Linked DNA regions of Homo sapiens: regions 1, 2, 3, 4, 5 and 6 are each linked to region 7. The links come from fine-mapping of genetic effects on gene expression. A gene starts in region 7. Each other region holds a variant in brackets. All regions are shown on one strand. Distances are between the middles of the regions. Region 1 overlaps ATXN7L1 (ataxin 7 like 1). Region 2 has its middle 28 kb from the start of ATXN7L1. Region 3 holds the start of ATXN7L1 (ataxin 7 like 1). Region 4 holds the start of LOC107986833 (a long non-coding RNA gene). Region 5 has its middle 41 kb from the start of CDHR3. Region 6 overlaps ATXN7L1 (ataxin 7 like 1). Region 7 holds the start of CDHR3 (cadherin related family member 3).

Evidence for each region.
Region 1: its variant is fine-mapped to the expression of CDHR3 in tibial nerve (GTEx, PIP above 0.99).
Region 2: its variant is fine-mapped to the expression of CDHR3 in anterior cingulate cortex (GTEx, PIP above 0.99). The same link has a PIP of 0.9 or more in hypothalamus and prefrontal cortex.
Region 3: its variant is fine-mapped to the expression of CDHR3 in tibial artery (GTEx, PIP above 0.99). The same link has a PIP of 0.9 or more in adrenal gland, aorta, atrial appendage, liver, pancreas and skeletal muscle.
Region 4: its variant is fine-mapped to the expression of CDHR3 in nasal epithelium (TOPMed, PIP above 0.99).
Region 5: its variant is fine-mapped to the expression of CDHR3 in whole blood (INTERVAL, PIP 0.99).
Region 6: its variant is fine-mapped to the expression of CDHR3 in tibial nerve (GTEx, PIP above 0.99). The same link has a PIP of 0.9 or more in fibroblasts.

Annotation. Positions count from the first base shown.
Region 1 is chr7:105,774,131-105,778,197 of GRCh38, reverse strand. All of the region lies in intron 3 of ATXN7L1 (ataxin 7 like 1), which reads left to right. Among named protein-coding and RNA genes, the nearest start is that of ATXN7L1, 100 kb to the left of the region's middle. RefSeq lists enhancers at 792-1,375, 1,376-1,959, 1,171-2,370, 1,960-2,543. The variant G/T (reference allele first, on the strand shown) is at 2,084.
Region 2 is chr7:105,902,579-105,906,645 of GRCh38, reverse strand. No RefSeq gene overlaps it. Among named protein-coding and RNA genes, the nearest start is that of ATXN7L1, 28 kb to the right of the region's middle. The variant A/C (reference allele first, on the strand shown) is at 1,587.
Region 3 is chr7:105,875,549-105,879,615 of GRCh38, reverse strand. It overlaps ATXN7L1 (ataxin 7 like 1), which reads left to right and starts at 3,017. Exons shown (of 12, transcript NM_020725.2): 1 at 3,017-3,238; 2 at 3,736-3,804. The coding sequence starts at 3,058. RefSeq lists a silencer at 2,765-2,974. The variant G/A (reference allele first, on the strand shown) is at 2,169.
Region 4 is chr7:105,993,918-105,997,984 of GRCh38, reverse strand. CDHR3 (cadherin related family member 3) reads right to left here. Exons shown (of 19, transcript NM_152750.5): 5 at 3,140-3,234; 6 at 1,631-1,735. LOC107986833 (a long non-coding RNA gene) reads right to left here and starts at 1,619. Exons shown (of 2, transcript XR_001745316.2): 1 at 1-1,619. The variant C/T (reference allele first, on the strand shown) is at 1,973.
Region 5 is chr7:105,920,568-105,924,634 of GRCh38, reverse strand. No RefSeq gene overlaps it. Among named protein-coding and RNA genes, the nearest start is that of CDHR3, 41 kb to the left of the region's middle. The variant C/T (reference allele first, on the strand shown) is at 1,767.
Region 6 is chr7:105,863,111-105,867,177 of GRCh38, reverse strand. The region is part of intron 2 of ATXN7L1 (ataxin 7 like 1); the gene reads left to right. Among named protein-coding and RNA genes, the nearest start is that of ATXN7L1, 11 kb to the left of the region's middle. The variant G/C (reference allele first, on the strand shown) is at 2,316.
Region 7 is chr7:105,961,333-105,965,399 of GRCh38, reverse strand. It overlaps CDHR3 (cadherin related family member 3), which reads right to left and starts at 2,136. Exons shown (of 19, transcript NM_152750.5): 1 at 2,036-2,136. The coding sequence starts at 2,081. RefSeq lists a silencer at 1,803-2,097 and enhancers at 1,680-2,631, 2,632-3,583.

The DNA of each region.
Region 1 (4,067 bases), 190 kb after region 7:
TCTACTTATTATCTCATCAAAGCCTATTTCTTGAAGGCTGAATGTCTTGGATTACATTCTCCAGAGTCACATGGTTTCAATTCATTTGTTTATTTGAAAAATATTTATTGAGCACCTGCTATATGCCAGGCACTGTTCTAATGCTGCAGATGCATTAGTGAACAAGACAAATAAGGGCCTGGCTTCTTGAGGCTTATGTTCTGGTAGGTTAAATAACATAAACAAATACATGATCAAGCCATGTGAAAAGCTGTCACAAGAGTGTCCCAGCAGAGAACACAGAAGAGTAAAAACAAACAAGGCACATTTGAGGGCTTCAGAGTAGTAGACAAGGACCAGAATGTCAGAGTCATGTAGAACAGAGTCTGAAGGTTGGGTTTTACTCTACGTGTGGTGCTAAGACACTGGGGGGTATTGAGTGAGGGAAAGGCATAATCTGGTTTCTGTTTTCTGAAGCTCACTCTGGCTGCAGTGGAGCCCAGGAGACCCGGAAGGAGCTAATGCATAGCTAGCGGTAACAGATCATCGTGGTAGCCGTGGAGATGGAGAGAAAAGGATAAACTCGAGATCTATTTTGGAAATGTAGCTGACAGAATTTGCTGACAGAATGGATTGGATTAGATTGGAAAGGGAAGAGTCAACATTTATTTAGAGTTAGGTTGAAGGAGAATGGCCAGTGACTTGGCAGAAAAAGCAGCAGAGAATGACTACACGGAAGCCAAGAGAAGAAAGCGTTTCATAGATCATGTCAAATGCCAAGAGGTTGAGTAAGACACTAAAGAGAAGAGGTCGCTAAGTTAGCAACCTGAGGGTTGTTGGCCTTGACAATAGCCAATTGACAATAGGTGATTTTATTTGTGTCTTGAGATTTTTTTCCAAGGACAGATGACTTCATTTTTGCTTCACCAACAGGCACCATTTTTAGGCTGGCAGTACCCTCAGTGTTTTATTGGCATGTATGCTGGGCTTAGCTGCCACCCAACTCAATCGTCAGCTGGCTCCTTTGCCCTCTGCATCTCTGTGACCTATAGCACTGATTACTGTGCAGAAGAGTCACTGTGAACACTAGACAGTGAGTTCCTGAAGGCTAGGACTGTTCCTTGGGCATCGCTGAGTCCCACCAGGGAGCACTTTTCCTGGCTTCTAGTAGACACTCAGAAGTGTCTGGGATAGGCCAAGGTGGGTAGATCACCTGAGGTCAAGAGTTCCAGACCAGCCTGGCCAACATGGTAAAACCCCAGCTCTACTAAAAATACAAAAGTTATCCAGGCATGGTGGCACGTGCCTATAATCCCAGCTACTCAGGAGGCTGAGGCACGAGAATCGCTTGAACCTGGCAGGCAGAGATTACAGTGAGCCAAGATTGTGCCACTGCATTCCAGCCTAGGTGACAGAGCAGGATTATGTCTCAAAAAAAAAAGTGTCTGGGATAAACAGGTGGATAAACAGGCAGAAGGAAGCACTCCTCCAATCCCAAATTCAAGTGCTGTTGGCACCTTCTGCTTCACCAATATTAGCATATATGGTGGCTGGTGCAAATTCTTATGTACTTATCCACCCCTCCCCCCTCTCACACTCTCAAGGAACAAGGACCCCTGTCAGGCTCACCATTCAATTCCCTGAGTCCACACAAGGAGTGCTGGATCTCAAAAGTTGATGCCCAATATACTGTTTTTTGTTTGTTTGTTTGTTTTGGGGGGGGGGTTGTTTGTTTGTTTGTTTTTCTTAAAAAAAAAAGAATCTTGGAAGAAAGAAGGAAGGAAGCCAGCAAGGAAGGGAAATTGGCTCACCAATTATGAATAAGCCAAATTCCACATGTAAGCAAGTACAATCATTTGGAAGACATGGCTGCTTGAAAGAGAATGACCAACTCTGTTGAGACGCAGTTGGAAAGGCATCCCTCTGTGAGCAGTGGGGAGGCCATGGCTTTGATCCCTGACCACAGCTGATTGCTGGAGGGCTCTCGCTGTAACGTGACCCCTGGCTTCTGACTCATCACTGGTGTGTCCTTGCCATACAGGCTGCTCCATTCCATTCCTCAGAGCTGTATCCACCGAGGAGAATTCGGGTAACAAACATTCCT[G/T]TATTTAAATCTGAGTAAAGAATGTTAGCAGCGCTGATTCAAAAGGTCATCTCGGAATTCTCCCTATCCTGAGCCATAAGCAGAGAAGCATCTCCCAAACAGTGCTTTCTCTGGAACAGTGAGCCCATACGAAGAACAAGGGTTTGGGTAGATGCATACCCTTGGGAAACTGTGCCAGACTCCCCCTCCCAGAGCCTCATAGCAGCTATTAGCACATTAAAGCGCCAAGAGGTCTTGGAGTCAAAAACAAAAATGCATCTATTTCACATTGGAGTCACATCGCCCTCATCCAAATTCAGCCACATGCAGTGGGCAACAAGAACAACAAAACTGCATGTTTTTCCTAAGAACGTGGGCCTAGACACTAGCTCACCCTTTCGTCTGGTGTCTGAGCAAAGAAACAAAGATGTTTCCCAACTCTGGAGGAGAAACTGGCCATGGGAAGGGCCCACTGTCCCACATACTACGTGTACTGTACTCTTTCAAGAGGAGTTTTTGTCCTACAGGATTTTCGCCTCCCACCCTGACACTAGAACCCAATCCCATGTAAGCTGCAGCATTCTGCATCAATTTTCTTTAGGGAGGCCCTCGGAGTATTCTCAAGGAGCCGATTCTTATGTCTTCATCTGGGATCACGGAGAGTTACTGACTCCTTCCTGGAGTGTCACATGCTAGAAACCTGTGTGCAGGCTTGCCCCCAGATGCTACAAATCTCTAAAGATACTTCCAAGCTATATCTTTTCTAAACCCGCAGTGCTTCTTCCCATGATGTGTAGAGCTACTTTGCCAGGCTTTCTTTCTGGGTTCCCCCCTCCCCAGAAAAAGGTGCTGTTAAACTAATGTTACATCTCACAATTAATGGCATCCTAGAATCGGGGAATACCGTTGATTGTTTGGGTAGGACCTTTCCCTTGCTCCTTTGCAGGGCCAGGCGCTTCTGAAAACTGGGTGCAAATTTGGGAATGCTGCATAGGAGACTCATAGGAAATAGATAGGTCTAGGGCAAAACATAAATTGGGGGGCATAAAGGATGAAAGAGTCAGTAAACCATTTCACTATGATGAATCCCACTTTACCTGGAAAAAATAATCTTTTTTTTTTCCAGAGAAAGCAACCATTGTCTTTGTTTTACCATGCTGGAACTACAGATGTCTTAAGATTTGGTTTCTGTTATTTGTTTGTTTATTAGCGTCATAGATACTTTGCTTTTCTCCCCCTGAATTATTTTCTCAAATTCCGAAGCCTTCTCTAGGGGTGCATTTTCCTAAGATAACAATGGCTTAGTTTACATTGTGGCTGTGGTTTTCTGCTCATCTTTATAAGTGGCTGCCTCCACCCCATATGTAATCTTCTTAAACAAGCACCTTCTTAAATGAGGCAACCCTCTTAACCAAAGCGCATTAATAATACTCATTATTAATGAGTATATGGTAGTGCTCTTCTTATTAATGAGAAGGCTGCGGGGCCGGGCGCGGTGGTTCACACTGTAATCTTAGCATTTTGGGAGGCTGAGGCAGGTGGATTACTTGAGGTCAGGAGTTGGAGACCAGCCTGGCCAACATGGCAAAACCCCGTCTCTACTAAAAATACAAAAAATTAGCCAGGTGTGGTAGCACACATCTGTTATCTCAGCTACTAGGGAGGCTGAGGCAGTAGAATCGCTTGAACCTGGGAGGTGGAGGTTTCAGTGAGCCAAGATCGTGCCACTGCACTCCAGCCTGAGTGACAGAGGGAGACTCTGTCTCAAAAAAAAAAAAAAAAGGGTTGCTGGCTCTGACTGACACCCTAATCCTGTGACCTGCATTTGTCAGCTCTGGGCATCATCCTGATAGTGACACTAGCTCCAAAAACATGAATCAAGTTTCCCGGTGCGTTTAAGAAGGCAGGGGCTAGATGGTGGCCCTTTGAAAATTTTCCTCCCACTTTCTTGGCTGAGCTGCCTTTGTCATATTCTTACAACAAACCCATGGGTCCCTAGGGTTTG
Region 2 (4,067 bases), 59 kb after region 7:
AATGGCCCTGGGGTAAAATGAGGAAGAGCACAGGAAGCAGTAAAAGCACACATGAATTCTGCTCCTGGTGCCAGAAACATGATTTTGTTTATCACAGGGCTGCCGCCTTCTGTCCCCCAAACACTGGCCTCCCTTACTCCCCTCCAGGCCCCAGAAGCAGTATCAGGACTGATAGGGTTTAGGGAGCACCTCAAGCACAGCTCTGCACCCTGCACCATGCCACTAGTTACTCCAGATGGGTTATGTCATCCCACGTGGTCCTCAGGGTACTTCCTATGTGAAGTGCTGGATGTGGAGATGTCTCCGCATGTCCCTGGAGGAGGTAGCAAAGAAGACCCGGGCTCTGGAGTCTCCTGCGTACGCTGGAATCCAGGATTCCTTCCTCTCTCCCTGCCTCAGTCTCCTTTTTATAAGAATATTAATACTAAAACCCCCTCCTAGGAAGATGGTAGAATGTACCAGTTAAGAGCACAGAGCGAGACTCTGTCTCAAAACAAAAAAAAAAAAAAAGAAAGAAAAAGAGCACAGAGCCATATGATCAGTTTGAATCCAGGCTCTGACACTAGCTGAATATAACCCTCAGCAAGTGATTTAACCTTTCTGAGCCCACATTTAACCTTTCTGTAAAATGTAGGTAATGGTAATTACTACTTCAGAGGAATATGAAAGAATAAAATTGGTTGAGGTATACAAAATAATTTAAACTATGCCTGGCACATAGTAGGCACCGTTTTATGTGTTGGCTGTTACTGTTATTATACATGCAAAATGCTTCTAGTGACCGTCAATTGATGTTAGCTATTATCTCCCCCCACAGTTATGAATACAACTGCAAGCAGCGACCTGGAAAATCTTGGTCTTGTCCAGCATATGCAAAGGGCAGGAATTCCGTGAGGAGCTCTTTGCATGAGAAACTGAATGCAAATCCTCCCAGCCCTTCCATCCTTGCCGAAGCAAGAAGGGAGGAAGAGAGTGAGTACAAACCATCTTAGACGCAGCTGAGCTGCGTTTCTCAGCCCTTAAGACAAAGAGGGCTTCATCCTTTGAATTTCAAATAAAATAAATTCCCAAGCTTAACTTTAAGCTGCATGTAGACAAATTAGCTCTAACGCCTAATCACTGAGGATGTGTTTCTTAAGTGAATTCACATGAACAAATAGGAAACATTCTTCTTCCTTTTCTAAGTAACTCAGCCTGGGAACAAGAGCTTGACAGAAGCGGGGATGAGCCTGTGTGTGCACATGGAGCCTGGAGCTCCCAGGGAGAGGCCAACGCTCCCCTTCCCCTCTGCCCACTCTTTATAGCTGCTTTTCTGCTCTTTGCCCTCCTGAATCATTTTCTCTTATTGTCATATTTTCAGACACTGAAAAAACTACCTTGGCAAATTCGAGATGAAGTCAGAAATAGACTCAAAGGCGTTTATTAAGAAGCATTTCTAAAGGGAGAAAAACAAATTACAGAAGCAGAAGCTGCGGTTGAGCAAGAAGAGATTTGGAGGTTTCAGGTAAAGAAACAAGCATGATAGATAAAAACACAAATAGGAGACAGGACCCGTGAATCACAAAGTATTACATTTATTACTTAAC[A/C]TTCATTAAATGTTCACTGCATCAAGCATGCATGCATCTTATTTAATCTCTGGAGGAAAAAGGGTAGCTACAATTATCTTTTATCTTTTTATAGATGGGGAAACTAAAGTATATAAAGGTTTAGGGATTTCCTGGCTTATGACTGTGCCCCTTGTGAATCAGGAAAGACTGGAGAAGATTCAGAAAAGATCCAAAAAAATAAAGAAGGGATCTAAAACCCAAGATTTTTGGCCAGGCATGGTAGCTCACACTGGTAATTCCAGCACTTTGGGAGGCCGAGACAGGCAGATCACCTGAGGTCAGGAGTTTGAGACCAGCCATGGCCAACATGGTGAAACCTGTCTCTACGAAAAAAAAAAGAAAAATTAGCCAGGTGTGGTGGTGCGCGCCTGGAGTCCCAGCTACTCAGGAGGCTGAGGCAGGACAGTCACTTGAATGTGGGAGGTGGAGGTTGCAATGGGCTAAGATAGCACCATTGCACCCTAGCCTGGGTAACAGAGTAAGACTCCATCTCAAAAATAAATAAATACAATAAAATTCAAGACTTTTATGAAGAGTTCTGTTAAAAGTCCTAGAATTGTTTAGCACAGTGCAAAAGGAACTGAGGATGGGAGGGGGAACAAAAGACTTTATTTCCTAGTCTCCCTGGCAACTACCCTATGTGCCAGCCAATAAGCTGTAAGCAAAGGATTGTGTGGCACTTCCAATGAGTCTCCTTAAAAGAGAAGAGGCAAGCCTTTCTTCTGCCCCTTCCTCCTGCCTAGAATGCAGATGTAATGGCTGGAACTCTAGCAGTCATTTTGGACCTTGAGGTGAACTTGAGAAAAGGAGCCATACCTTAGGACGTGGAGCATCAAGTTAAATGTCTGGGTCCATGACATAGTGGAGCCACATACCATCCCTGGACTGCCTATCTCTGGATTTCTTTTATATGGAGGAGAAATACACTTCTATCTTGTCATAGCCACTACTACAGCATACAGAGTAAACTTAATCCTAACAGATGGACCCAGGCTTCTTCTGACAAGCATTTTGCAACAACAAAGGAAGCCAGACTTGGAATAAAGCTGATACCACAGTAGCAGAGCAGAAACAAAAAACCCAGGTATTTCCATACATCATGAAGCTGCTGGGTCAAGCTTCTCCTGAAGCTGACATTTTCATGAGACTTTCCAGTTACATGAACCAATAAATTCACTTTATTTTTTAAGCTAGTTTGAGTTGGCAGTTTTGCTACTTACAACTGAAAGCATCATAGTTGACATGGCATTTCATTTCCAATGAAAGCAGTATAAACAGAAGTATATTTAAGTGCATCTGGGCTTTCCTTAGAGTGGAGTCATTAAATGCATACATTAGGTCTGAGTGATTTTTTAAAATTATAATTATGCGCCACATAACATTTCAATCAGTGATAGGCCACAAAGACAACAGTGGTCCCATAAGATTATAATACCATATTTTTACTGTAACATTTCTATGTTTACATGTTTAGATACATCAATATTTAACACTGTGTTACAGTTGCTACAGTATTCAGTACAGTAATATGCTGTACAGATTTGTATCCTAGGTGGGTAGTAGGCATCTAGGTTCGTGTAGGTACACTCTATGATGTTTGCTCAATGATGGAATCACCTAATGACACATTTCTCAGAACATATCTCCATTGTTAAGTGACATTACTGTACTTAAAATTTATTGAGTCCCTAGTATGTGCCAGGTATTTGACACAAATTATCACTCATCTAGGCAACAGTACTGAATGGCAGAAATTGTTATTCCCATTTTACAAAGGAAGAAACTGAGGCTCAGGGGTTTACATAAGTTGCCCAAGATGATATAACTAGTAAGGACACAGCTAGGAGTAAAACCCAGGCCTGCAGAGGTCCTATAGACATAATCTTTGCATTACACAGAGCCCTGGCCACAGCTACCTCCTAGTCCTAATGTTCTGCAAGTCTTGCTTTTTAAGCTCTGTTTTTGTTTTGGTTTTGGTTTGTTTTTTGGGTTTTTTTTAGACAGAGTCTTGCTCTATTGCCCAGGCTGGAGTGCAGTGGCATGATCTCAGCTCACTGCAACCTCCACCACCCAGGTTCAAGTGACTCTCGTGCCTCAGCCTCCCAAGTAGCCGGGATTACAGGTGCACACCACCATGCCTGGCTAATTTTTGTATTTTTAGTAGAGACAGGTTTCACCATGTTGGTCAGGCTGGTCTTAAACTCCTGACTTCAAGTGATCCACCTGCCTCAGACTCCCAAAGTGCTGCCATTACAGGTGTGAGCCACTGTGCCTGCTTGTTTTGGGTTTTTGTTTTGTTTTGTTTTTTGCATTTTTTTTGTAGAGATGGGGTCTCGCTACATTGCCCAGGCTGGTCTCAAACCCCTCCCACTTCAGCCTCTCAAAGTGCTGGGATTACAGGTGGGAGCCACTGCGTCCAGCCTTAAGCTTTGCTTTTGGAAACCTTGCAGCTTGGCCAGT
Region 3 (4,067 bases), 86 kb after region 7:
GAACCACTGATTTGCTTCACTATAACTGAGGTGTCCTGACTTCTGATGATAAGCCACCTTTGATTTTTTTGAGTGGTTTACAGTAGCTCCCAGAAGAGGAGACAGCATTCTGGAAGCTCAAGTCACTGACTCCCAGCAAGTGGCCCACTCACATGGCTACTAGCAGGATTAAGCTCCTCACTGGCTGTTGTATTGAGGGCCTCAGTTCCCCACTGGCTGATGACCAGAGGCCTCCCTCAGTTACCTGCCACACAGTCCTCTCCATAAGGCAGCTTACAACATGGAAGTGGGCTTCCCTTAGAGCAAGACAGGGCATGCAAGAGAGAGTGAGAGCAACAGAAGTGACAGCAGTTTTGTACCCTAACCTCAGAAATGACATCCCACCACTTTTGCTATATTCTCTTTGTTATCAGCAAGTGACTAAGTCTAGCCCACACTAAAGAAAAGAGGATTACACAAGGGCATGAACACCAGGAGGTACAGACCTTTGGGGCCACATTAGCTGCTGCCTACACCTTCCTTGCATGCACAACAACACAGGAATAAACATCAAAATAGATAATAAATAGAGGGAAAATAGGGAAGCAGAAGGGAAAGGGAAAGTGTTCCAGCATCTAATTACTCATGCCTCAGAGCTCTCGCATTCTCTCTCCCCACCTCTAAATCTAGCCCAACAGCACACCCTCTGATCAGGTGCTCTCTTCACAGTCTCACACCTGTCTCCTCTTCTCTACCTGCATAGCACCACCAAAGTTCAGGCTTTCATCTCTTCACACCATGAATATTGCAGCACTACTTTTCTAACCAGGCTCCGTACTCCAATCTTTCTAACTCACACTTTTAACTTATCTTTATGGTACAGAAAGCCCTTCAGTAGCTCCCCATTGTCAAACAAAATCCAGACTCTTTAGGCTGCCGTTTGGTGCCTTCCATAATTTGATCCAGGCCTGGGTATCAAAATGCATCACCCCCAAGCCCCCAGTAACAATTCTCCATCCCAGGCAAACCATGCTCAACACCCAAACACACCATGTTTATACTCAGCTTGAAGCCTCTGCTAATACCATTATTCCCCCTCCCTCCGCAAGACCAGTCTTCACCTTACCATTACAAATCTTTGGCAATTTCCAAGATGCAGAGCAGAGCCCATCTTCTGTTACGCAGTTTCTGTTCACTCCTAACTAGATTTCGGTTCCTCTATGAACTGGCACAGCTGAGAGACCACCCCACCCACTGCACAGGCCAGTCCCTGTGTACCTGCCTGTTTTCCCAAGGAATCGGTAAGTTTCACAACTTCCTTCTTCCAGAGACCACCAGACTGCATCTCTGTGAGGGTGAGGATGGGTCTCACTCATCTTTCCCTCCTGACAGGAGGGCACAGCTGTTCCATGACAGGCAATATTGGTTGACTTAAGATGGACAGATGGAAGGAAGGAAGGAAGGAAGGAAATGTCAAGCCCAGGGTCTAGCATATAACAAGAGGTCAACAAGTAATACATATTTGTTAACACCACCAATTCTTACAATGGGAATTCTTCACCCAGCGACACCTTAGCTATGTAGGAGCCCTTCGAAAGAGAGCAAAGGCAAATGCAGTTTATCTGAGTCTGACACAAACAAGCCGACTCACACAAACATCACAACTAAAGGCAAATCCGCAGCTCCTCCTTCATCGCCCATCCTAACACTGGCTTAGCGATACAGGGTGCCAAGCTCAGGGAAATTATTAGATGGTTCAGCCAGGGCAGAACTCAGTCAGTACAAAGCAACTTCCAATCAGTGCGCTTCAGCTGTGACAACTTGGGAAACAGCAGTGGTGAGAGCTAAAAGGGTGCTGGCGAAAGAGAAAAAAAAATATGTCGCTTGTGGGGTGAGGGCGGTGTCCATATAGTTTAGATAATTCTAGTAAACAAAAGGATTTGTTAAAAAGAAGTAACAGAAGACTTTTTAAAGCCTTCTTTAAAGGGTGAAAATCTCAACTAAAGCACCCAACGTCCAAAATCCAGAGGAAATCTAGCGCTCCCTTTCTAGCTGGCTAGAGCAGTTAAGCCTGAAGTGAATTCTCCCAGGAATCAGATTCCTGGCCAAAGGTTGCCTGCGCAAACCCGGGCCACCCTCGTCTCACGGCAGGGAGCGCTGGAAACGGCTCAGGGGCTAGGCCCGTTAGC[G/A]TCGTCTTCCAAGAGCCGTAAATTCGCCCTCCCGCTCTGCTGACCCTGGAGCAAAGTCCATGCAGTGGTTCTCTGAGAGCCGGAGATACGCACCGCGCGGGGAACCCGGGGGTCCGGGGGCCCTAACTTTTGAGTTTTGCACGCCCCGCAGCCTGAGATGGGAAGGTAGCTCGTAGCGCTCCAAACTCACCTGCGTTTCAGAACGACATCTACCCACTGGTTTCAGCTCCTAGAGCAACAACTGCAGAATCTCCATGGTCCAAAGTCCTCCAGGAAAGAGAAGAAAGGGGTGACGGGGGTGAGGGCTGGGAGGCGAGGTCACCAGGGTCCCTTCCCTGGCTCGGGTGGGGGTGGGGGGCGCAACCCCTCACGGCTCCTCCCCACCAAGCCGTCGGGACCCCAGCGGGGGCGCCTCGCGTTGGGCGACAGGGACGCGGGGAGAGAGCGACAAGCTGGAAGCAAGGGCTGCCTGCAAAACTTTCGGTCCTCCAGCGGCAACTCTGCGGGAAAGACCACCCTTCCTTCGGCCCCGCGTCGGGCCTATCCCCGTGTGCCCCGACCCCTGCGCCCCAGGCTTGGGCGGCGCCGCTGCATCCCGGCTGCCGGGCGCGCTGCAGCCTTCGCTCTCCCGCACGCGGCGCTCGCCCGTCCGCGCTGCCCCTCCCCGGCAGGCGGGCGGCCCCGGCGGGCGGGCGGGCGCGGACTGCAGGTGCCTCTCTGCTGCCCCTGGCGGCCGCGGGCGCGCGAGCCCCACCGAGCCGGCTCCGGGAGCCCGAGCGCCCGCCCCTCCTCCGCTCCCTCTCCCCTCCTCCTCCGCCGCCCTCCTCCCATCCCGCCCTTCCTCCCTCCCTCCCCCTTTCAGAACACTCAATGTCGGAACGTTCCGAAGATGACGTCGGAGCGTTCTCGAATCCCGTGTCTCTCGGCTGCTGCTGCCGAAGGAACAGGGAAAAAGCAACAAGAAGGAAGAGCAATGGCGACACTGGATCGCAAAGTGCCCAGTCCGGAGGCGTTTCTGGGCAAACCCTGGTCCTCCTGGATCGACGCCGCCAAATTACACTGCTCCGACAGTAAGAACCCCACCACCTCCTCCTCCTTTTATTATCCTGTAACCTTTCCATTCACCTAGAGCCACTGGGAAAAAGTGTGTGTGTGAGAGAGAGAGTGGCCCCCGGTGTCCTCCATGCTTCTCCCTCTCTCTCTAAATAAATACACACAGAGACAGATCATCAATGCACAGGGAGAGGCCCGGCTGCCAGGGCTGTCTGTCTGTCTGTGCCCGGCTCCCCGTGGCAGCCCGCGGGGTGGGCTCGCAGCCCCACGGTGTTGTCCGTTTAAAAGGCTACTTTGTTGCTGCTTGCATAGTTTTTTGGGTACCTATCTGGGCCAGGTAGATGGAAACCCAGACTTGGGAGAAAATGTTGCATTGTCAATTTTTGAAAGAATTTCATATACAGTATTTATATCGATCTGTTTGCAAATAAACACTCTCCCTCCCCCCTTGACTTTGGCTTTTTTCCCCCCTTTTTTCCTTATTTTCTGTTTTCCTTTTCTTTTTCATCTGCAGATGTAGATTTAGAAGAGGCTGGAAAAGAGGGTGGAAAAAGCAGGGAGGTTATGAGGCTTAATAAAGAAGGTAAGTGGAGCTACTGGCATTTTAGTGTTAGCATGTGTGGCAGAATCTTCACAGGATTTCGAATATAATGTGAATTGTTCTGCTGGGTACAGAGTGACTAAGGCTTGTCAAAAATTGAGCACGCCCAGGTGACTACTGCTTCATGTTAACTTCTTTCAAAGTATAAATACAACTGGGGGGGGGGTAAAGGGGGGTGAGACTGTTGAAGGCAGAAGTTTACTGCACTTCAGTTGGACTCCACGTTTGAACCTTCTGATGCATAT
Region 4 (4,067 bases), 33 kb before region 7:
GAATGCTGTTTGAAATAAAGTCGACTGACTTAAAAAAAAAAAGACCGTCACACAGATCATGCTATCTGCTTGGGGATGGAGCCCAATATGTTCCTCTTTCAAACCTAAAATGAGAACCAGAGAGTTCCAGGCTGACCTCTGGGTGCATCCCACGCCAGCGAGGGTCATGTTCTCTCTCTCTCTCTGCTAAAAGTCAGTTTCTGTATTTTGGAAGATGTGATCCAAACCAGATGGTTTACAAGCTCTGCCCCTGGGGAGGACTTATTATTTTCCCCTTTGAAACCCCATTAACCTTCCTCCCCTCCTCCCAGATGGGACTTGTGGGGAAGGTGTCAAAGAATGCATCTGCTCCAGCCCTGCAGCCATCACCTTCCTCTGGGGGTTCTTGAAGAATCTGCAGAGCTGTGTGGGCCCATACCTGAGCCTGAGTCCGGGCTGGGATGTCATAACTGTTAATAAGCTGCCTAGACTTTGCTCCAGGAGCCACCTGTCAGCCCAAAGGCACTGAGCTCTCCTTCTGAACCTAACCCAGCATCAGGTGCTGATGGAAAGCATTACATAGCCATTTAATAGCAGCAGATAAATTGAGGGTCAAGGATTGAAAAAGGAACTGCAGCCCAGGCTGCAGGGCTGGAGCAGACGCATTCTTTGACACCTGCAACTGGACTGTAGACTATGTTAACATCCAGAAGTTGTGCAATTGTGGTGTTTGCCAAGTGGCACCAGGTTAGTCTGGGAGTGAGGTTGCCTTAAATACCTCGCAATCTTGGAGTAGTTTTGCAAGTCCTCTACCCAGCTCTGAGGCCTAATGGTCTTTTATTGGTGGAGTATCCTGTGCTGAATCTATTCATAACCGTTCATGCTGTTAAAGGTGATTTTGCCTTTCCTTGTGGCTGGCTTCTATGCCCATCTCAGGGACTGGGGCAGGCAGAGGCTCTGTAAGCAGTATGCCAGGCTGTTTGCAGTGCCATCTACTAGCTCAGAATCCCATCTTTTCCTCCTAAATCCCCATCTACAATAGGCTCAGATCTTCATTTTGTGCCTGGGATAGTGCCAGGCACATTTCCACAAACTACCCTCCACCCGATGCATTTACCCTTCCCACCTCTGCTGGACAGAGGAGCTGCCAGACACAGCCGGATCACTTTTCTGGATCCACCATGGCAGGAAGAAACTTTAGAGCAGCCAGTAACAGGCAGGCACCGTGAAAATAGCCCTCTCCTCGGTGTGAGGATAACATACTAGGAGCGGGCGTTAGGGAGTCGTGAGTGATGATGCATGCTCTGGGACTCTGCTGTTACTAAAGCGCGGCACTTTATTTTAAAAGCACCCTCTGCATGTGCACAGTGCAGGCCACACCCCGGGGCATGTGTCCACCCCTTCTCCCCACCATATCCAAAATCCCATGGTGCATGTGAATGTGTGGGTACAGGAGGCAGAGGCAGCAAAGGTGGAAAACAGCAGTCCAGAGGCCCAGATAAAGACTCTGAAGAGCACGTGCCTCTAATCTTTCCTGCAGGCCACAGCAAAGGGCATCCCTCTGCCTTGTATTAAATGTGCCGGAGGAGACGAGGCCGCCTAAGAAGGACGCACCTGCGGCCCAGGGAGTCCTGCATGCCCTCAGGCCTACCTGGTAAAGCGAGGGACTTCGTCGTTGAGGTTCACGATGTTCACCTGGAGCTCTGTGGAGGCTTTGAGGCCTCCACTGTCCCTCACCTCCACGATGAGATGGAAACTGCCAGGGAAACATTCCACGTGAGAGAATCAAGCTTTGCTGGCACTACTTCAAAATAGGATGGGGAAAATCATGGGGTGGGAGGAGTGAGAGCAGACCCTGCCCCTTTGGTGGTGAGCCTCTCCGTAATGCCCCCACAGTCTCAGGGCCTGCAGGGTGACCTTTCTCCCCCCGTCTCCAAACCCGCTGGCTGCTTCTCATTCTGCAGGGGCTATTCACCACCATTGTCCCACCAGG[C/T]CAGCATCTGCTCAAGCGCCATGCTGCACATCTATCCCGGTGTTTTTCACAAGATCTCTGGAAAGTGCATATCACTCCCACTGGAGGGAGTGAGGCCCCCATGGCTCACATGGCTAGCTCTTGTTCCCACACCCGACGCAGAGCCAGGAGCCTCACCTGCTTCACCCCAAGGCCAATGTGTTGTCATCCACTTCCCCTCATCAGCCCCTTTGCTTGGATGGCTGCCTTTCCCAAACAAGATGGGGTCTGAGAAATCTTGTATAGATCACCCTTGACATTAATGACTACATCTTAGAAAAAAAATGCCATCTTCCATTTCAAAAGGCATCAAGCCAACAGGGTCCAGATGGTCACCTAATCAATAAAGACAACACTCAACCAGATAAGGGCATAATCCTTTACTACCAGTCTTCGCCAGTGGACTCAAGGGCCATAAAACGAGCAGGACTTCACCGGCTCGACAAGGCCATCTTGACAGACCCTGTCTTGCTGTCACTTGTAATCAGCACCCAGCATCTGCCCAAATCAAAGACTCTTCCTTGCAAGACATTGATGACCATCTGGATGTGGCCAAGACACTCTCCGTGTCCACATCACCGTCCTTGGTCTGGTTTATTAACCTCTTTTCTCATGATGTTAAATGTTACTTTGTTTGATGTGGAATGTTTAATTTATAACATTTATGTGCTGATGAAGTATACTATGTATGGTTTACAATACTGACTGACCTGTGGAGTGGCTTGAGCCTATGTGCTCTGACTACTGAGTTAGCAAGAGGTCTAAGGAGAGTTGCCTCCTTGGGAATTCCATGTAGCTCATGGCTTTTAGGATTGAAGTAGCATCAGTGAAAACCTGACCTTATGGAAAGACACAAATGTGCATGGACCTGGTTATGTCTGACCTTGCACTGCTCATGACACTCTTGTACTTGGGCACCCTCTCCCATACTGTCATTCTTGTTCTCTGGAGACCAAAAGAGGCCTCCCAGACAATTGCCTTATTCCCCATCCCTCTCTGGGGTTCACTACCATCTGAACTTACAATGACGCTGTAGACTGCTCAAGGGGCTCCCCCCAGCTGCCCTCAGGTTGCACTGTGACCTATCCCTCATGTTTTCCTTGACCCTCAGATAAACAGTACTTCATGCAAGGTCAATAGCAAGACTACCTTCTGTGTCCTGCTTCAAAGTCCAATTCTGTTGTGGAGAAGAGGGTGCCATTAGCAGACATTCTGAAGCTCTTTGGGGGAGAAATCAGGAAATACTAAAAAACAAGGGAAAAAAATTGATGAAATCAGCCCACCTGCCCACCCTTCCCCAGAAGATGTGTGTGCTCATTTCCTATTTTATGTTCTTAGCCCATGGAACGTTCTCGATGCATCAGGATGCGGTTCAAAGAGCAGTTATCCAATTTAATCGCTCTTGAATACAGAAACTTCTGGCTCTGTTGGTCTGAGCCCTGGTTGACCACACCCTGAAAAGCTGGTGAGTGGATCTTGTTCTAACTACAGAAAGCATATAAAAGGCCCCTGTCAAGGCAGGCTCTGCTTCTGAGTCCAATCTTCTTATCCCTATCACTGTGTTCTCACTCCTGGACAACTTCTGGCTTTGATTCTATGCCTTGGCTTTAACCAACACTGTATTTAAATACAGTGTATTTAATACAGCTACTACCCACTAGGTAATAGGACTATACCTATTACCTATTTAATACAGCTACTATACCTATTTAATACAGCTACTACCCACTAGGTAATAGGACTATACCTATTACCTATTTAATACAGCTACTACCCACTAGGTAATAGGACTATACCAAAGTGAGTAGGATCTGGTCACTACCCTTAAAAACAACTTACAATATAGCAGGGCGCAAAATGCATGAGCATCAGTTATTGAAATGCCTGAAGGAACAAGGGACAAGGGTGAGCTGAGAATGAAACATAACAGGGCTTACAGTCCAGGTTGGAAGCCAGTTTAGGGATTCAGAAGAGCTGTTTTGAAATCTAATCCCTGGCACGTGGCATAAGGAAAGTCCTTCCTACATCTTTGGGTAGTTGAGAGTCTTTGTCATCATAGGCTTCCAGCCCAGCTCTC
Region 5 (4,067 bases), 41 kb after region 7:
AATTAGGCTAAATCTGCTTTGTGCTCTATAAATGGAATAACAAAGCCTAGATGACAGCACACCTTTTTACAGCATGGTTTTACTGAATATTTTAAGTCCACTGTTGAGACCTACTCAGAAAAAAAGATTCCTTTCAAAATATTACTGTTCATTGACAATGCACTGGTTACGTAAGAGCTCTGATGGAGATGTGTAAGGAGATTAATGATGTTTTCATACTTGCTAACACAACATTCATTCTGCAGCCCATGGATCAATATATAATTTCAACTTTCAAGTTTTACTATTTAAGAAATATAATACATTTCATAAAGCTACAGCTGTCATAGACAGTGATTCCTCTAATGGATCTAGACAAGGTAAATTGAACACCTTCTGGAGATGATAACAATAGTTATGAGCTAAAAAAATCACCAAAAAATCTCATAATGTTTTAAGAAAGTTTACAAATTTGTGCTGGGCCACATTCAAAGCCATCCTGGGCCACATGGAGCCTGTGGGCCATGGGTTGGACAAGCTTGATCTAGGCTCTTCTTAGCTTGGTTTTGTTTGTGTGCTTCTCCATTCATTCCAGCTGTGTTGCTGCCAGAACCCCTGACCTACCCTCAGCCCAGTCCTCAGTCTTAATTCCTATCCCTGCTCACCCAGTTCTTGCCAACCTTATTCTAGCTAGTTATCCTCCTAACCAGCATTATGGGTACCTCCAGCTTTGATTCCACCCCTACCTGTGTACCCAGCTACACTCAGCCAGGCCTTACTCAGCCCAGCCCAGAAGAATAAGTCAGGGCCCTGTCCTAGTATAATTCCGAGTCACAACAGTTTGAGCCATGAAACAGAAAAACCCATGACTCCTTCTGCTGCTGCTGGAGGAAACCATGTCTTCTCAGGGAAAATTTGTCAGCTACCCAGTGGGAGTGAGAATCGCCAGGCAGAGCTCCAGGGATCTTCGTGGCAGTCGTTACATCTTCTGTCTATGAAAGTGAAGCAATGCCTTCCAGAAATCAGGTGGATGCTATGGCATAGTAAAAATAAGAGGCCATTAACTGAGCTCCATGTCCCCAAGTCCCAGTGACAGTCTACTTAGGGGCCTCGGAGAACCTGGGAAGGGTCGAGGCATTCTCATTTGAGTCAAGGCTAACACCATGAATGCCAAGGCCATTAATGATTCTATATTTGAGAGCATGTTCAGTCCTCAGAAGCTGTGATCCTGATTTCCTTCTCCCCGATGAGCATTTCCACCAGCCTCACAATTATACCTCTGAGCTGGTGCAGGGCTACTGATCCCATGGTACGCACCCATCACCCCCACCCCCCTGATGCCCCGCATCAAAGAGTTCATCCAGACCAAGTTTTTAGCCATAGTTTATTATCCATTCATCTCCTTCAGTCCCCTCTGAAAAAATAAAACCACGGAGGTGAAGCTGTAAAATGGCTAGAAGGCTTTCAATGATACAGTCATGCATGACTGCTGCTCATTCTTAGCATGTTCTCTACTGGATTCACCTGCAAAGGCCCTACAATTGCCCAGATACATAACAGGCAGAAGAAGAGAATAACACTCTGGGCTCAGCCTAGTCACGAAGCAAGGTTTCTATGTTTGGCAAATAACAGTTTTATTACAATTTGGCTTCATACATAATTATCCACAGTTAAGAATGCACCAATTTGTGATCATGAATATTTCATCCTTGTGACAGTTGTATTTTCAAAATAAATTATTTAGTCATCCTCCACTGTATAAAAGGTGTATTCATTTCCCATTGCTA[C/T]TGTTACAATTCCCACAAACTTAGCATGTTCAACAACATATAGTTATTATCTTAGAGTTCTATAGGTCAGAAGCCCAATACAGGTCTCACCAGGTTAAAATCAAGGTGTAGACAGGGATGTATGCATTTTGGTAGCTCTGCAGAGAATACGTTTCCTTCTCTTTCCCAGCTTCTAGAGCCTGCCTGCATTCTTCGGCTTGTGGTCTCTTCCTCTATCTTCAAAGCCAACAATGTTGAATCTCTCTGACCGTTCTTACATTGGTTGCGTTTTTCTCTGTGACCACAGCAGGGAAAAGTTCTCCACTTTTAAGAACTTGTGTGATTACATGAGTCCCACTGGGATTATCCAGGATAGTCTCCCCATCTCAAAATCCTTCACTTATTCACATCTGCAAATCCCCTTTGTCATGTAAGGTAATGTATTCCCAAATTCCGGGGATTAGGAAGTGAATATCTTTGGGAGGTCATTTGCCTACTGCAAAATTAAAGGATAATCTTAACACCATTCATACTTTAAGTGCCTCTCATAATGCCAGGGCTTGTGAATTAGAGTTTATGAGACTGGTATCATATATCTCAATTTTTTAAGGGAAAGACCATCTTTCACCTATTAGGCTTATCATCAGCACAGAACCAATTATTTGTCAAAGAGTATTTGCTGAAGCCTACACTATGAGATAGGTCTACCATGTACAGCACAGTAGTGCATGATCTTTTAGGGAAGAGGGTTTGAAGTGTATGCTAATTTCACAGTGCTCCATCCAGAAGGCCCTGACATGCTTCTGGATTTACAGGTTAAATACAAAACTGTCGAAGTACATTTTTAACTGGTGGAAGTCAAATTTCTGGGCCATGTCAACTTCAAACATGGTATCCAGATGGGTCAACACCATGCTCTGTGATGTGCCCCTTGAAGATCAGGCAGCCCCAGGTGCCAATTCTTCTACAAAGGAGATCTGGATTACTGCTGTCCAACAGAACCTTTTGCAGTGATGGAAATATTCCATAATCAGCACTGTTCAATACAGCAGCCACTGGCTTTATGTGGCTACTGAGCATGTAAAATGTAGCTAGTGTGACTAAGTAACTAATTTTTAAATTTTGATTAATTTGAATTTAATATAAATACATATGGCTACGGCTACCATATTAAATAGGGCAGATTTAAACCCTTTGGGAAAAAGAGAACTTGGCTTGGCCATCAAGGTCATGTTTTGATCCTGTTGATCCCATCTAGAGGGATGCAGAATCAGGCATTCCATTCTTTTTTTTTTTCTTTTTACTATATTTTAAGTTTTACGGTACATGTGCACAACGTGCAGGTTTGTTACATATATATACATGTGCCATGTTGGTGTGCTGCACCCATTAACTCGTCATTTAACATTAGGTATATCTCCTAATGCTATCCCTCCTCCCTCCCCTCAACCCACAACAGGCCCCGGGGTGTGATGTTCCCCTTCCTGTGTCCATGTGTTCTCATTGCTCAATTCCCACCTATGAGTGAGAACATGCAGTGTTTGGTTTTTTGTCCTTGCGATAGTTTGCTGAGAATGATGGTTTCCAGCTTCATCCATGTCCCTATAAAGGACATGAACTCATCATTTTTTATGGCTATATACCCAAAGGATTATAAATCATGCTGCTATAAAGACACGTGCACATGTATGTTTATTGCGGCACTATTCACAATAGCAAAGACTTGGAACCAACCCAAATGTCCAACAATGATAGACTGGATTAAGAAAATGTGGCACATATACACCATGGAATACTAGGCATTCCATTCTACTGTGCACGAGTCACTGCAAACTCAAGCATTTCCAGAGTTCTGAAAGCTCAACTAAGAACCAAGCCTACTCATTCAACATCAACACACACAGCACCCTGAGCGTCCAAAACCACGGGGGTTATGTTCTAGACCACAGGACTGGCTACCTGGCCCTGCTCAAGGCGGCAGGATCAATGGGCAAGAATGTGCAAGAATTTACCACAACTCAGCCTTGCTGTGTCAACCACAGAGGCCAAGTACCCCTAACACCCAGATAGAGTAATTGTGCCTTACTTCTTTGTTCATTCCCACCATTACATTTTGTAAATTGGAACTTCTAGGAGGTTAGAAGGATATGCTGATCAAAAAAAGGGGACATATTCAAGGAGTGTCCCTGGGTCAACCCTTTATTCAGTCTCTGCCACATGTCTAGTAACTGTGAGTGATGGGTGCATCAGTATAATCCTGAGCCTCCCAAGGTACAGCCTTTCACTACTATTCATCATATTGGCTAAGGTATTCATCATATT
Region 6 (4,067 bases), 98 kb after region 7:
GAGGCCTTCTGACCTGTGTGCCAGGTGGTCTGCAGCATCAGTTAAGACTGTGAGGCCATGTTGATGCTTTCAGCCGGCGGTTCCCAGGGGCCTGCCGTCTCTGCTGCAGAATTGATTTAGAAAAGTTAGGCAGATTTGTTTCTGTATGGTTTTCCGGGTTGGTTGCATTTATATCCTTCAGGTTAACGTTTCGTTTATGACATTTTGTTTCATTCATGACATATTTCAGAAGTAGGCATAAGATGGTAGTACTCAATGCAGTGAGACCTTGTCCTGGTCAAATCCCTCTTCTCTAAGGACCCCACACACTGAGGTGGCCCACTATTCACATCTGGAGACAGTGGTCACTGAGTGATTGCAATAATCAAACATAGCCGTAATGGAGAGGGAGAGCTTTAGCCAGTGGGTTCTACTTTTTCAGAATATTGTAGGAATGGCAAGGACTGACTTCTGTGTGTGACTGTCTCCTAAATCTCCCGGTCCAGTGTTCTGCTGATTACGTGCTCCCAGCTGATGCCGTTTGGCTGGCATTCTCTTACTCTCTCCTGTGGTAGAGCTCAGACTGCCAAATGGACCTGGATTTGGACCCTGAGGCGCTTGAACTAATGATGAAACCTCAGGAAATCCCTTCTTGCAAGTGGGCTGAGGCTACAGCGGAGCATCCTTAATATTCAGGGGCTAGACCTGGCTGCCCTAGTCGTCTATAAGTGAAGCTGGAATTCTGCTGTGGGGAAAGCAATGTTTTTATGGAGACACTTTATCCTTGTACCTGTGGTTTCTCAACACAATTCTGCTTGCCAATTTTAAGGGATCAAGTGCTTACAGAAGAAATGGAAACCAAATAAATACTCTCCAGGGCAGGACGAAGTGGCACCAGGTCACCATAATGGGGAAGATAAAAGTGAGTCGATGACAGGCTCTTTGAACACAGAAGCACTTACCGGTGTACCTGATTCTGTGATGCTAATTGTAAATCTGTGAACATTAATGGTGTAAGGATACCCTTAACTGTAGGGGGAGTGTGAGTTACGTGACCTTACCTCAAGGCATTGACAGGCCACAGAGTCCTGGGGTGGGGTGGGGACACAGGACACCCAGTCCGATGATATTAACCACAGGTGAGTTCAGCATTCCAGGGGTATGGAAGATGCTGGAGACATGGTCCCAGTTTGGTTATATCAGACCAAGGTGATAGTCCAGTTCTCAAAAAGTATATGAGTCACAAAAGGACAAATACTCTGTGATTCCATGTATAATGAAGTTCCTAGAGTAGTCAGATTCATACAGACAGCGAGTAGAATGGTGGGTATTCAGGGGCTGGGGGAGGGGAAACGGAGAGTTAGTGTTGCCATGATACAGAGTTTCAGTTGGGGAAGATGCAAAAGTTCTGGAGATGGACTGTGGTGATGGTTGTACAACATTGTGAATATACTTAATGTCACAGAACTAACCGTACACATAAAAAATGGTGAAAATGGCCCGGGTGCAGTGGCTCACGCCTGTAATCCCAGCACTTTGGGAGGCCAAGGTGGGCAGATCACGAGGTCAGGAGATCGATACCATCCTGGCTAACACGGTGAAACCCCATCTCTACTCAAAATACAAAAAATTAGCTGGGTATGGTGGCACGTGCCTGTAGTCCCAGCTGCTCAGGAGGCTGAGGCAGGAGAATCACTTGAACCCGGGAGGCGGAGGTTGCAGTGAGCTGAGATCGCGCCACTGCACCCCAGCCTGGGCAACACAGCGAGACTCTGTCTCAAAAAAAAAAAAAAAGTTAAAATGGTAAATTTTATGTTATGTGTATTTTACCACACACAAAAAGGTTCATTGGCATTGCAGGCTTGGGAGTTTAATGGAGCATTATTTAAATCTTGACCATTTATTGGCTGTGTATTAAATTAAGCCTCAATTTCTACTTTTCTTTTCCAGAGTAGGAATAATAGTACCTATCAGAATTGTTGTGGAAATAAATGAGATGCTATCTGGTATAAAGTAGGTACTCAGTAATGGAAGCCTTTGTTGTGATGATCGTTGTTTTTACCGGGCACTTGGGTCTTCGCCTTTGTCTTAAGAGCTGCCACTTCCAGGGGACAGACTGCGTTCTTACTGCTCCGGGGGATGCCCGGGGCTCACCAGGCATCTTTTGTCAACTTGTATGTCTCCAGTTCTTTAAGGATGCCCCGAATAAAGACAAAGGGATTGGACTGGTGTCCCTGTACTGTTAGTTTCAAGAGTGAATCTGGGGCTGGGCACTGTGGCTCATGCCTGTAATCCCAGCACTTTGGGAGGCCCAGGCGGGTGGATCATGAGGTCAG[G/C]AGTTCGAGACCAGCCTGGCCAATGTGGTGAAACCCCATCTCTACTAAAAAAAATACAAAAATTAGCCAGGTATGGTGGCATGTGCTTGTAGTCCTAGCTGCTTGGGAGGCTGAGGCAGAAGAATTGCTTGAATTCGGGAGGCGGAGGTTGCAGTGAGCCGAGATTGCACCACTGCACTCCAGCCTGGGGGACAGAGTGACACTCCGTCTCAAAAAAAAGAAAAAAAAAAAACGAATGAATCTGTTTCAATGTTTTGCAAAGTGTGTTCATTCTGGAGACCCTGCTGTGTTGTCCTGTAGGGTACTTCGTGCCCCCGGCCCCAGGCTGGTCATACTAAAACGAAACAACCGGGAGTGAAGCACAGGAACCAGGAATGTCCTTTTTTTTTTTTTTTTTTTTTTTTTTGAGACAGGGCCTCTCTCTGCCACCCAGGCTGGAGTGCAGTGGCATGATCAAGCTCACTGCAGCGTCGATCTCCAGGGCTCAAGCGATCCTTCTACCTCAGACTCCTAGGTAGCTAGGACTACAGGCGTGTGCTGCCATGCCTGCCTAATTTTTTTTGACTTTTAGTAGAGACAAGGTCTTGCTATATTCCCCAGGCTGGTCTCAAACTCCTGAGCCCAGGTGATCCTCCCACCTCGGCCTCTCAAAGTTCTGGGATTACAGGTGTGAGCCACCACACCTGACCAGGAACGTGCATTTTAAACAGGCTCCTCAGGTGGCTCTGTTGTTTCCTGAACTTTGAGAACTACTGTTTATTGGTTGAGAGAAGTGGTTCTCAACCCTGCCTACCTTGAAAATTCCTTGGGAAGCTTTTTAAAAGCAAATATGCCAGGACCACCCACAGAGATTCTGATTCTATAGATCCAGGTTCAGGGGTTCTAGGGAGCTGCTTATGTATTTCCTTTTGGAGTTTTTTGTTTGTGTTTTAAATTTATTTTTCTGGTACCTTTTGGGCTAAACACAGCCCAACTTATGTGTTTTTTTGTTTGTTTTGTTTTGTTTTTAAGTAACAATCCTAGCTGTCTTTTATTGGGCATTAACTAGGTGCCAGGCACAGGGCTAAATGTGCATGTTCGCATTTAATCCTCATGACCACCCTGTGAGGCAAATCCTGTTATCAACCCTATTTCAGAGATTGGGAAGCTGAGGCTCAGAGAGGTCAAGTGATTTACCCAAGGTAACATAGCTGGGGAATAGTAGAGCTGCCCTGAACCCCAAGGCAGGCTGATTCCAGAGACTGTGCTCTAAGCACTGTGTCCTGATGTCTGTCATCCTAGGAGCAGGGTTAGGACTAAGGGGAAGCAAGCAGGCACCCAGGACACCTGTTTAAGGAGGGGCTCACGTGGGCTTCTGCAAGTGCGGAGTGAGTGCCCCTTAAGTGTTGCACCTGGGCACCTGACTTCACTCATCCTCTCACCATCCTTGGCCAAGAGAGCTTGTTCTTTAAGCAAAATGGCAAGGCTGAACTACCTTTCATTCCCCCTTGACTGTGTAAGCCAGTGGCCTCCTGATAGGGCCCTGGGTCTCCCCATCAGGGAAACGCTCTCTCATTCCAAGGCCCCAGCTTTGGGGCCTCTGTGGCCAGAGTCCTGGCCTCAGGGAAATCACAGGAGCTAATGCAAACTGTGTTCCTTTTTGGGAGAAGGTGTTAGCAAAGATGGTTGCCAAGCAACTCCAGGGGCGTCTATCTAGAGTGATGATTTCTCTCTTTTTCCTCCTTTTGAACATCTTCTAGGCCGCTGTTCAGT
Region 7 (4,067 bases):
TGGGTTCAAGCGATTCTCCTGCCTCAGCCTCCTGAGTAGCTAGGATTATAGGCACCCGTCTTCATGCTCTGCTAATTTTTTACTGTATGTTACTTTATTTGAGATTATTATAGTGATGCCTGCTTCCAACAGCCTGAAGGGGTGCTGATGTGGCTGCCCCGCTAGAAGCCTCTGTAGCCCAGGTGTTGGAGTGTGAGGGTAATGACCAGGTTCTCAGACTCACAAAAGAAACAGTTTGTGTCACAGTAGCCCTTCCAAAAACAAGATTTGACCTAAGGGATTCTATTGTGTGTTTTAAATAAGAAATCTCAAGTATTTCTTGCAAACCTTTGTGATCTATCCCTTTCACACTTCTGATAAAATTCCAAATGATAGTGTTCAGTATAAGAAATTGGGTTCTTCCTAACCTCACTCTTTCCCCAGTGACAATAAAAGTCACCTCGACTCAAATGATTGTGGCCCTAAAAGCCCATATTTCTGGGGGAAATCTGAAATGTTTACTTCAAGTGACAGTCTGAACTGCTCATGGCCCACTTCACATTCACAGGTCATCCTGCCCTCTGCTGAGTTGAAAAGCCCAAGATAGAAGAGGGCTCAATATTAGGAAACCCAGTTATTTATTTATCTTATTAGCAGATCGAAGAGGAAAATTAAATGGTCATTTTCATAGATCTTGAAAAAGCGTTTGATTTAAAAATCCATTTTTATTTAGAAATAAGTACTTGAATATTCTTACATTTAGTTTTATTATATTTTTATTTAGAAATAAATACTGTAATATTCTTATATTAATAAGAATAAAAGCCACCTCCTTAACATATAAAACATTTCTCTCTCACACCAAAAGTTAACATCATGCTTAATGGGAAACAAGACAGGAATTTACACTCTTGTCATTATTTAATAATGGTCAGAATGTCCAGGCCTGGCAGTTAGATAAGAAAAAAATAGGAGCTATAGACATAGGAGAAGAAGAATATAAATGTTCATTTTTTCAAACGTGGAAAATTCATGAGAATCACCTGAAAAACCATGCCAAATAATAAGATAATTTGTTAACAGATTTCCATACATCATACAATAATCAGTTGAAAGATGTAGGGAAGAAGAGATTCCATTTACAAATGTAAAAAAAGAAAAAGTAAAAGAACTAGAAATAACCATAATAAGAATGTACCAAATCTATATGAAGGAAACCTCAAAATACTCCTAAGAAAAACAAATGAAGACTCAAACAAGTATCTAGAACCCTGTTCTTGGATTAGGAAGACTCAAGATCATAAATAATACTCACTAACATTTACTAAGCATTTACTATGTACTCAGACACTCTTCTAAGTATTTTACTACATAACTTGTCAAAGATGTAAATTATCCCTAAATTAATTTGCAAATTTAACATAAATTCAATATATTATGCATATACTACCTATTCAGAAATAAAATTTAATTTTAAAATCTCAATTTCAATAATCCAAGCTGACATTAAAAAGATCATCTAAGATTCTTGATGCCCTTGAATGAGGAAGAGAGAGTAAAATGATCACTAGCTTGAGTCTTTGACCCTTCTATCAGAAGGTGTTTTCTTTGCTCAAGAGGAAGACACCCCCTCAGTAACTCACTTTCCTCAAAGGATCACTTGTCAACCTCAAGTTGCCCTACGAGCCTCCAGAAAAGGGCCAGAATCTCCACAAAGACTCACTTGACATACTCACAAAGCTCTGCTATGAACACTATTTTCCCAACCTTAAATCTCAGGAGGACTACCAAATGCAGGCCAGTTAACCCAAGAGGGAAAGTGAAGTCTACACCAACATAGATTAGATTAGGCTCTTTAAGCATCTCTCTTTTCCAGGGCTCCTACCTGGTCCCCCAGGGCTCCCTGGAGCGGCATCACCTCATTCATTACTGCAGCTAAGCCCTCAATTGAACAAGCCTCCCAGGGGCAATTTCCTTTCTGGGGGACATTGTCATTCAATGGTATTATGCAGACCAAGTAGGCAAGCAAGGTTCCAAAGCAAAATTGAGTTCCTACCTGACATGGCACCCAGGAGAGCCAGGAGAATGATTGCTTCCTGCATACTTGATGGTCACAACTGTGCGTGCTTCCAGCACATTAGCCACAGCCTGAATCCCGTCTCACACCCAAAGTTTATTCCAGAAGCCACTCAGCTTCCCCTCCTGGTTTTGTTGCCATGCAAGAAATCAAACAGAGGCTTTGGCGGTAGCCAAGGGAGACTCCAAACACCACAGGACTGTTTGTTCTTTGATTACCTGCTTCTGTGACTGCATAGCACCCAAGAGACCAACCAGCCAGTCCTGGTCAGCTCAGAGTTTACCTTAAAAGTCCACACTCACCAAGTGTCTCAACCAAGAGCTCCAAAAGAGAAGTCAAAAGAGAAAACCGAGACACGGAGACCACACTAAGAGCTGGACGTGCGTAGTCCACCCATGATGGTCTCGGTCGCCCTGTAGCCAGGCTTGTGGTCATTTCCAGAAACAGGGGTGGGAAGTGGGAGTTTTTCTGCTGTCCTGAATCAATGAGTAGGATTCAGACTTGGGAATTAACTGGCACTCGTTCTAAAGACAAGATCTGAGAGCTGGGAGCAGACCCCTCCTCGAGGCTGACTTGAGGTGGAAGACTGCCCTCTGACTCCACCCCCCACCACCGCCCCTCCAGCCCTCGAAGAAGGCTGTGAAGGAAGGTTACTGGAGTGGTGAGGCTTCTGCCCACTGGGGAGTGATGCAGGTCTTGCCCTTCACGATGCCTTTCTGTTCCACACAGCCCTGTGCCAGGGCACAAGATGTGGCATGTGAACAAACGCGGGCTGGGGTCTAGTCTCCACTGAGAAGGAGCAACAGCAGAGCAGAGAGAGAACGGCCGAGCAGTGGCCTGTCCCCTTGACATGGTGCAGTAAGAGAAGTAGTGGGCACAGTGGAAGGCAGCTGGGCTTGGACCACCTCTCCCATTCCTCTGCCAGCTAGGGGAGGAGAGGCCAGCAGCCCAAGGCTGGGGGCAGGAATGCAGTGAAGAAGGTGGGGAGTTGAGTCAGAGCCTCCCAGTCTGGACGAGACCCCACAGGCGCTCTGAAAACTACACATGCCCCACAGGTGAACCAGCTTTTAGCACCTGCTACACGGAGGTCACCAACGAGGGATAGAGGGAGACAGTGTTATGGAACCAAACTGGGTCCACTCACCCTGTGCAGTAAAACCGGATATCCACACCGAGGTTTTTGCAGCAATAGAAAGGAAGGCATTTATTTGCAAGGGTGCCAAGCAAGAAGGGCTCAGAGAGTGAGGGGTTTGACCCAGGCTGCGCCACCTGCCAGTGTCCCCTGTGTCCCCTGCGTCCCAAACCTAGGGTGGCAAGGCTGCCCTTCCCTTCCACCACATCCAAACATTTGACAAGCCCTTTCCAGCCTCCAGGGCCTGCTGCCGGGCCCCTTCCCATGCTTGTTGCTACTGCCCTGGCTTAAGGTCCTTGCCTCTGGCCTGGGCTCTGGCCCGCAGCACATCCTACAGAAACTTAGGTTAATTTCCCCAAAGTACAATTTTGGTCATTTACTTTCCTGCTCAAAATAACAAGAACCTTTCCCTTAAGAAAAGTTGACTTTTCTTGTGTAAAGCATGAAGGAAAGGTAGTAAGATTAGGAAAGCTAGTCGATAGGTCTCTGTTCGAAGCACATAGATAGTAACAACAACAACAAAACAAAAGGGAGTGTTGCTGTGTCACCTTTGGCAATTTACCTAACCTTTCAGAATCTCAGTTCCACTCACTTCTGTAAATCAGGGAAAATAATACCTGCTACACAGTATCATCGCAAGCGATACACAAGAGAAAGAAGTGAAAGAAACTGGCCCATACTATGTGTTTTAAAAATACTTTTTTTTTTTTTTTTTTTTTTTTTGGAGACAGGATCTCACTGTCACTCTGTCTCCCAGGCTAGAGTGTAGCAGCGCGATCATAGCTCATTACAGCCTCAATCTCCTGGACTCAAGCAATCCGCCCACCTCAGCCTCTGGAGCAGCTGGGACCACAGGCGTGCACCACCACACCAGGCTAA